2 separate regions of the Homo sapiens genome follow, and region 2 is linked to region 1. Evidence: fine-mapped expression QTL. A gene starts in region 1. The other region holds a variant in brackets. All regions are shown on one strand. Distances are from middle to middle.

What was found. PIP is the estimated chance that this variant, and not a neighbour inherited with it, causes the effect.
Region 2: its variant is the best candidate, but not a certain one, in a credible set for the expression of OSR2 in left ventricle (GTEx, PIP 0.74).

What each region holds. Positions count from the first base shown.
Region 1 is chr8:98,941,919-98,946,306 of GRCh38, reverse strand. OSR2 (odd-skipped related transciption factor 2) reads right to left here and starts at 1,865. Exons shown (of 4, transcript NM_001142462.3): 1 at 1,484-1,865. It overlaps LOC112268016 (collagen alpha-1(I) chain-like), which reads left to right and starts at 3,697. Exons shown (of 2, transcript XM_047422523.1): 1 at 3,697-4,388. The coding sequence starts at 3,964. It also overlaps a transcript of STK3 not described here. RefSeq lists enhancers at 600-1,100, 1,101-1,601 and silencers at 1,747-2,106, 3,959-4,218.
Region 2 is chr8:98,365,979-98,370,366 of GRCh38, reverse strand. It overlaps LOC124901988 (a long non-coding RNA gene), which reads right to left and starts at 2,853. Exons shown (of 2, transcript XR_007061024.1): 1 at 2,770-2,853; 2 at 2,466-2,686. It also overlaps a transcript of STK3 not described here. The variant TA/A (reference allele first, on the strand shown) is at 2,301.

The DNA.
Region 1 (4,388 bases):
TTGTAGTTCCCACACTCCCTTTCAGGAAATAACAGCGATCATCATCTGCTGTCATTTCTCCACCGTCCCGTTTCAGACCACTGGTTACTTTTAATCTTGCAAGGAAAGAAACTTAAACCAATGAAAAGTCATAAATATGTTGGTGGAGCTGAGGCTACTTTTCTTTCATCAGTCTTCTTCACAGGAATTTCCAGGCATGTGGAGAAATTTTGTAAAATTTACTTGACTGGCTGTCACCAAGGAAGATGTGTACACACTTATTTCAGTTCAGTGAAGCTTTCAAAACATTGGAGAAAAAAATTAAGAAGTAACTTGATAAGGAGTTTCGCTCTTTGGTAATGGTAATATTACACTGAATTATCTAAAAATAATATACAGTCAGGGTTCATCTGCTAAAACCTGTGCACTGGTATATGAGATAAATGACTGATGGTCGGATAGGTAGGCTCACTGAATTTCAGCCCAAACCACAGCAGAATTTTATATAAATTAGAGAGCTATAGACTAAGTAGATCAAAGAAGATCATTAAAAAGAAAAAAAATTGTTAAAGGACAGATTGTTAGGGCCAGACTGTATCAGGTGAATAGAGAAACGGCTGCGAAGTTCCTGCCCCTTCAGAGCGCCTCTGCCTTCCCAAGGAGTTAATTAAATTAAGATGCCTTCCGCATAATCTAGGTTCTGTTTCTCTGTGCTCCCCTTGCTCCCCCTGCGTGAGTAATTTTCTTGTTCTGCCCAGGACTGCAGTTTGTTTAGCAGAGAAAGTGGCTGTCTGCGCCCTTTCGCTTCGGGAAACGCCAGCCCCCTTTTGTTCTCGGCTAACAGGTAGGAAGACAGATCCGGGGCTCCCTCCACAAACACCTTTTCCTCGCTCCTTCTTCGTACAACTGCAACTCCTTTCTCACTTGCCGTTTCTCAGGAATCCGAGCGTTTAAGCCCCCGGGGAGTTTGCTTTTGGGCCCCCTCAGTCAGGACTAGAAGGTGGGAGGAGAATTTTAAAGCCAGCACGAGGTTGACAAATTACCGAGGACTGAACTATTTCCCTCTTGAAATGTGCCTTCAGCGTCGCTGGCTGGGCAGGCACCGGGTGTCCGGGCCCGTCCACGCTGCGCTGCCGCGGCTGCCCCGGGACAAGTCGACCCAGGCTTGCTAGGGCAGGAGCAGAAACACCATGGGATTGTGGGGTTTGATCTCAGTGTACGTAGACCAGCTTTTATAAGAAGTCTTGCTGACCGCTTAGATTAAATATCCCAAAACAAAATTAAGAAACAGTATGTAGAAATGTGTGTGGTTGGGTGTTAGCTGGGAGTCGCGTGCCAGGGACCCAAGGAAGTGAGAAATACAGTGCCCTGGGATTGCATCCCCATGATCTATTTTCACATCTGAATTTGGGGCACACCAGACCGAGAATCTGAACGCCTCTTACACCCCCAAACCCTTCCTTCCAAAGGGCAGCTACAGCCCCTTCCCAGAGCGAACACTCACCTCCCGCAGAAAGGTCAACCTGGGCAGCCGCGCTCAGACCCGGTCCAGGCAGCGAGGCGCACAGCTTGGAAAGGTCATTGAGTCCACGCCTGGCAAACTTTTTTTTCCGCGCGGAGTCGCAGGAGTCGCGGACATGATCTGGAGGACCGCGAGCAGCTAAAGCGAGAGCAGATCCACGTCTTCGTCAGAGTCTGTGGACGCGGACTGTGTAAAGACCCGGGGTGCTTGGGGCCGGCGTTCAGCGCTCGCCCAGAACCTCGCTCTTCGGCGAACCTCTCGCTGTCGACTCCCGGTGAGGTCGGAGCCCACAGCCTTGCAGGGCCATCACCCTCCAGCAGCAAGCACGCCGAGCTCCGTCCCCGCCCGCGTCCCTCCCCAGGCTGCCCCAGGCCGGGAGTCTTGGGCTTTAGTAGCGGCCCCGCCTCCCCTTCGGGCGGGCGTCCCGCCGCCGCGCGGGGCCCTCAGCGCCCTGGCTCCGCCTCCGCGCCCGGCGTCTGCTAATGGTCCACTCTGTTTACTTCTGTTTGGATAGCAACTGAGTCTTAAAGGCACAGGTTTGCTCGAGGTTTCCCTGTTATAGAGACGCAGCCGTAGGTGACTCAGTTCAAAACTCACACACAAACACAATACCCACCCCCTTTCTTCTCGTTGCCACTTTTCCTTATACCATTAGAAACTCAACAACTGCTTCTCTGCCTCTCAAAGACTCCACAGAGAATCCCAAAGGGCATTTAGTATTTTTATTTGGTTCGCTCGCCGGCTTAATTTGCACATCTTAACACATTCAATACAACTACCTTCACCGTAAAGTAAAATAATTCAGGTCTAGACTGCATTCTCCAGCATAAATCACTCTTTCCCCAATTTTAAACAGTTTTGTACATACTTTTGGTCAATTATGACTACATGTGTAGTCTGCTTTCGCCTGCTGTTTTCTAAACGAAGTTTGTTTACAGAGGTGGCAATTGACTAATTTAGTAATTATTGCAAAGACGCGTGGAATGCCCCAGGAGAAATTTCTTCCAATATTTAAGCTTTAATCGGCAAATGTTCATTTCATACGCAGTAAACCAACTTGGTTAAAACAGTGGGCATCTGCAACCCATTGGCAAAGAATAAAGAATCCATCTGGAATTGGTGAAGAACAATCATTTTTAAAATTTAGGAAAATGCGATTCTAGTTTTTCAAAACATTTACATCTTCATTCCCAGCAAAAATTGAGTTCAATGTTCAGTCTCCAGGAAAGTTAATAGAATTCAAAGTGCAGTGATACATTTTTCAGGTCCTTCTAAAGGTTTGGTCTTGTGTGAGTGTAACTGCAAAAAGCACTTCAACCTCTCTGGAATAGGGGTGACCGAGTGACAGGAAGGGAATGATACACACCCATTTTAAGCAGCTTCTTTTCAGATGTGATTTGCGTGATCAACACTAAGCAAAAACGCCCTTCGTCCCAGACGAGTTGCCAGAGGGGATCTGTGTTACTCCACGGCAAGCCCGCACTTTGAGGACGTAGATCTTCAACCAAGAGGCTGTACAATTCAAAAGTGTTCCGTCGAAAGATGGTTTTGAATGAGACGCCCCAAAGGACAATTCAAAAAATCTCAATCGTGCGGGGAAGTAGATAAATACAAGCAGAGGCTAAAAACTGTCAAAAGGTTAAGCAGTAATTGGGGAGTCAAGCAGAAGCTCCCAGATATTATTTTATTAAGATAAAATTCTTTCTATTTTATTTATGCCGAGGTGGAGAGAATTTTTCGTTCCTTTGGTAAAACATAACAGGGGTCGCAGATTTTTTTTCTGTCTTTCCAATTTTAAGTTCGCAAAGATTAAAAAGTGAGCTTGAAACGGAGATTCGAGTGTTTAATATCCTGCAGTACTTAACTGCTTCAAAGTAGATTTGACACACAGAATGGAAGCAGCAGAATGCCTAAGCATTCAGATTTTTTTTTTTTTTAACGTTTTGCCTGGTGGGTCCCATAGGGGTGCTTTCATTTTAGAGCTCAGTCCTGAGCCTCAGCTGCGGGATGCCTGCGGTCCTCTCTCTCCAACTGCCTCATTCCTCCTGCAGCTTTTCTCAGTTTGGGAGATTTGGAGGGAGCTTTCTCTTCCTTCAGACTCCCCAAGCCTCCCACTCACGGGGTGGTGACCTGAAGAGCGTTCCTACGCTTCGCACTTCCTTTTCATCAAAGGGGAGGCAACTCCCCAGCAGCGGGCTTCACACCTTTCCCGCCCTTAAGTATGTGTACGTTGGGTGCAGAACCGTTTGGTTTTCCCGAGGGGTAGGCAGAATTTCCAACCCCACGAGCTGCTCCCTCTTTCCGCAAACCTCCTAACCCCGGGGTTTTTCCATAAATGTGTTTACTTCGTCCACGCCAGCCTGCGAAGTTCCAAAATGGAGTCTGGGCCACGCCGGCGTTCTGGGCACGACTACGGTCTCTTGAAAAGGTAGGGAAGAGTCGGCGAGCTCCAGCTTTGGGGGATGCCGCGTGGCCCGGCCGCGCCTAGGCCGCCTGCTGGCCCTGCCGCCTCGATGGGCAGGTGCGCGCCGAACGCGGGGAGCGGCCCGGAGGCTGAGCGCAGCGCAGCACCGTCCGCGGGCCCTCCTGGGCCACCTCTGCGCCCACTGGGGGCTGACCCTTGTGTTTCTCCAGGCTCAGACCCAGCCAGCCCCTCGTCCCGGCCGGCGTCTAGGGCGCAGGCATTGCGGGGCCCACCCAAGAGCAGGTCACCCGCCAGGCTCGCCGCCCGCCCCCAGCAGCCCTCGGCGCAGAAAGGCCACGCGGCCCACGGGCGAGTTGTGGGTTTCGGGTGTGCGGAGAGGGAAGTCCCGGAGTCTGCAGTGGCCCGGCTGTGCCCCCGAGGCTGTCTCCGCGGAGCCGTTCCATTCCTGCCGCGGCCCCGGGG
Region 2 (4,388 bases), 580 kb after region 1:
ACACACACACACACACACACACACTGCAGAGGTCAGGGGGTCTGTGGAGTTAGGATATATTTTTAACAGGCCTCTCTAGTTCCTAAAAGAATGAAAGTTCCTGGTCCACTGGCCTGAGAATGCTGAAGTCACTTCAGCCCCCACCCAACAAACATTAAAGACCTGGGAGGCCCAGGGTTCCCGGGGGCTACTGGTGTTAGGGAGAGGCTTGATGGGCCTTAGAGACAAACTGGATCTGTTGCTGCTTCCCAGCTTGTAAAAAAAAAAAAAAAAAAAAATCAAAATCCCATTTTTGATGTCTGACTGTGAGGCCCCATCCATCCCACCCCTTCTGCCCCATATCTGTGCAGGTGGGTGAGAATGCCTGGGCTCACCTTCCTTTAGCACTAGCAGGAATTGAAGCCACACAACACATAAACCTTTGCCCACACGCAGGAACCCTCACCCCATCCCCACACCATAGGCACCATGAAAGCCCAAGCCACATTTCAGATGTGCTTGGGAGCTTGCCCTGCTCTCCCTAGAAAACCTCATTACTTGAGCAATAAACCTTTTTAATACCCTCTTGGTGCATGGGTGGTGTCATCAGTCTTAACATTTGAACAAAATTTTGGGTGGGGGTACTTCCCGTCTCCATGGAGTGACTCAACAGAGCCTCTTGTTTTATCACTGAGGCCTGCACTGCTCTAACATGTCTAGAATTCCTTCTGATTTCTTTATTGGGCCCCTCCTCCTCCCTGCAAGGGAGCTCCCAGTGCAAGGCAGACCCTCATCACAATTGTAGGGCACATGAAACTTATTTTCTGGAATCCCAGGCCTGCCCTTTGTTTTTTTCCCCTTCAGGACATTCATCTTACATCCTCCAGCTGCTAAACCACCTAGCCTTCTGCCCAGCCTTCACACTCACCTCCCCTGAACCCCCGTATTAAAAATACACAAAAAAAGATCCAAAAAACTCCCTCCTACCAAGGCCTTAAATGACTGCTGAATCTTAATACATTGCTTTTGTGGGGAGAAGATCCTTAATAGTAAAAGAACTTAGTTGCTAATGGTAGCGTTTTAGGCTTCAGCAATAGGATAGGCATCTATGTAATTAGGGTCCTAACTCCCAAATACCTTCCCCTTCAACTCACCAGCTGCAATTATGCAATTAGGGCTTCACTCCTTTGGTTCAAAGCTTCATTCTGTTAAAAGGTAATTCTTCCTCCTGCTTTAGTAATTGATACTTAGTGGGCACACAATTATCACATCCTTTCCTGAGGACAGAATATTAGGGGGAAGGGATGGAGATTAAGAGGATATTTGGCAATCAAGGGAGCAGAAAACTTCCACTGGAGAAGGGTTGCAGGACCCAGCAGGAATAGCGAGAGAGTTGGAAATTCTGGTACATCCTCATTTCCAGGGATCTCAGACATGTCCAGTGATGCAAAGTACAATAGGAGCTTGACCTAGAGAATGTTAGTTATGCCAGTGCCCTTGAGGCCATCAGCCCCAACCTCACTCTTTCACAGATGAAGAGCTCAATGTTCCGAGAAGGCCTACGTAAGGTCACCAAGTTACAGCCAGGACCAGGGCTGGAAATCAGGTCTGCTGCCTCCAAGATGGCACCATCAGATGTGATGGCACCATCACAGTTCATCTGTGACAAACAATCAAGCATGATAATTGTGAGTTCCTTTGCTGTTACATTACTGGAACTTACCTTCATTCTGACACGCTTTTGTGAATGCAGGAGACATAGGTTTGGTTGCAGCTGCCATTCCCTAGATTTGACCTAACCTAACCCTGGACATGTCCATGGAGGTGTGGGTGCATATGCAAGTCACCTGCCATGTGTTAGGGGTTTGTGTGGGAACCTGTGTGCTCCCATGTTAGCATGTCAAGGAACGGGGGCCCCTTTATGATCCTATAATGAACTGCTTCTCCTTCAAATCTCTGCAATCCTAAATGCTGGTTGGATGTCTCATTCTTCTTAACCATGTAGACATGTTATGGGGGCCCAGGATCCCCACCCACTTTTGAGAAACTGCAGAGACTGTTTCAGCGAGAAGTCCTGCCCTTTCCAAGTAAGTCAGTTTCCAGAGGACTCCCGTGGCAGTGAGCACCTGCCTCCATACCCCAGGCCAGATCCCAGCAAAGGAAGATAGGCTATAGCTCTTTCAGATTTCTCTCTCAGTAACTGACGTAGTTTTCACCTCTTTTAAAATTCAACATATTGCTTCTTGCAAGACTCAGGCAGGAGTTCCAAGTCAAACAAGGGAGAGAGTGTGCTGTCCTCCCCACTGCTGTTTTTCTCTGTT[TA/A]TTCTGACCCCTGCAGAGTGCCCTGGGGCCATGGCCAGAGCTGTCAATGACACAGCGCAGATGTGAGTGGTGGAGTCAAAGAAAGCCAGCAACCAAAGCATTCAGCCCACTGCTTCTGAAATACAATCAGCGTGCAAGTTCATACATACATGTGTAGATATGTGTTTGCTTTTCCTATGAAAACTTTAATTAGCAAGAAAATTGCAAGTGGCCATAATCCTCCAGCCTTAAAGGCAGCCTGCATGCTGGTGCTGGATTTTTCAAGTCAGTCGGCTTCCTTCATCAATGTGCTTCCCATTAGCCAGAGAGTTGCCCCGAAAGGCTGTCTTCTTTCACCTGCCTCCTCTGAGGGAGGTCTACAGTTGCCTTGTTGACATGGCAGTCACTAAAGAGAAGGAGACTCTGGCTATAGCCTTAGTCCAGGCAGCCCAAACAGGGAGGAAGAAACCCCGCTCCAGCCCCAGGTACCTGGAGATGTGAAATCTGGGTCGTGATGGCCATTCAGTAGACAGGCTTGCTGTGCAAGTCCAGAACTTCAGAACAGCAGTTGGCCTGCAGCCTCTGAGGTTCAGCAGGGACTCAGTATGATTTCTAAGGGTTTCCTATCCTCATCAGCTTCCCATATTCTGGCCTTCCTGTTGCTCTTGGGAGCCTCTAACCAGAAGAAGAGTGGAAGGGGGAGCGATCCAAAGATTATTTCTATCCCTAAGCACTCACCCCCACTGACTCACTCATCTCCTGCTGGGATTCTAAAGCCAGGATAAATGGGCTGGGGTAAGGTTTGACTTTTTAAGAAAACTTTTAGCAACTGCTGCCTGCTTCTTATTCAAATTTGGCTGATGATTATTGAATACTTACTATGGGCTAGGCATTGTGCTAAGTGCTTTCACATATCTAATCTCACACAATTCTTATAACAACCCTGAGAGGGAGGGATGAATATCCCCATTTTACAGATGGACAGATTGTAGAGGTAGAGAATGCTGGAAAATGAAACTGGAGAGCCACCAACACTTTGGAGACAGACCTGAGTTCCAGTCTCTACTTTGTCTTTTACTAACTGTGTGACATGGGAAAGTTACTCAATTTCTGAGCCTTGATGTCCGGATTGGCAAAATAGGCATTGACTTACAGGGCAGTGACAAACAAATGAATAATGCATGTGTAGTTGGCATGCTGCCTAGCATACAGTGGGCATGCAATAAATTAGGCAATGATGACTCTTGGAAAGATAGGTCTAGTAGACGTGTGTGGGGCAAAACTGGGGAGGCTGATGTTGGACATGGGAGTCAGGATAGAAAGCCATGGGTTTTATGTGACAGTCTCAGCTGAAGCCAGGTGGGGGTGGGTGGAGCAGGAATAGACAGATAGATCAGTAAAACAGAATGGAAAGCTCAGAAATAGATCCACCATAAAATGGAGCTTAGTTTATGATAAAGGAGGCGTTATAAATTAGTGGACAAACTGAACCATTCAATAAGTATGTTGGCTTCCTATGTGGAAAACAAAAACAAAAACATTAGATCCCTACCTCACACCACAATTAAAAATAAACTTCAGATGGCTTAAGGACCTAAATGCTCAAGAGAATGTTTTTATGGTATGGAGATAAGACAGTAATGTCAGAAATCATAAAGGAAAATGTTAAAATTATAAACTTCTGGAAAAGTAAAAAACAAATTAAAAAGGATTAATATTCAAAAAATATAAAGAATTTCTTTAAGTCATTATTTTAAAGGACAAAGATTCCAATAGAAAAATGAAGACTATAAGCCAACAATTCACAGAAGAACCCTGAATGTCCAATATACCTATGAAAAGATGTCTGGGCCTCAACAGTAAGTGAGAGTATTTGGTTTAAACAAGGAAATTCAATTGCACATTATTAGCTTGGTAAAAACAGAAAATCACAACAATACAAAGTATTGGTGAAAATATAGGGAAACAGGAATTCAGCAGGTAGGAAAAACCATTTTAGAGAACAATTTTGGTAACATCTAATAAAATTGCAAACACTTGTACCCATGACTGAACTCTCCTCTTCTAGGTTATATCTTAGGGAAATTCCTGTACATGTTTTATAAATA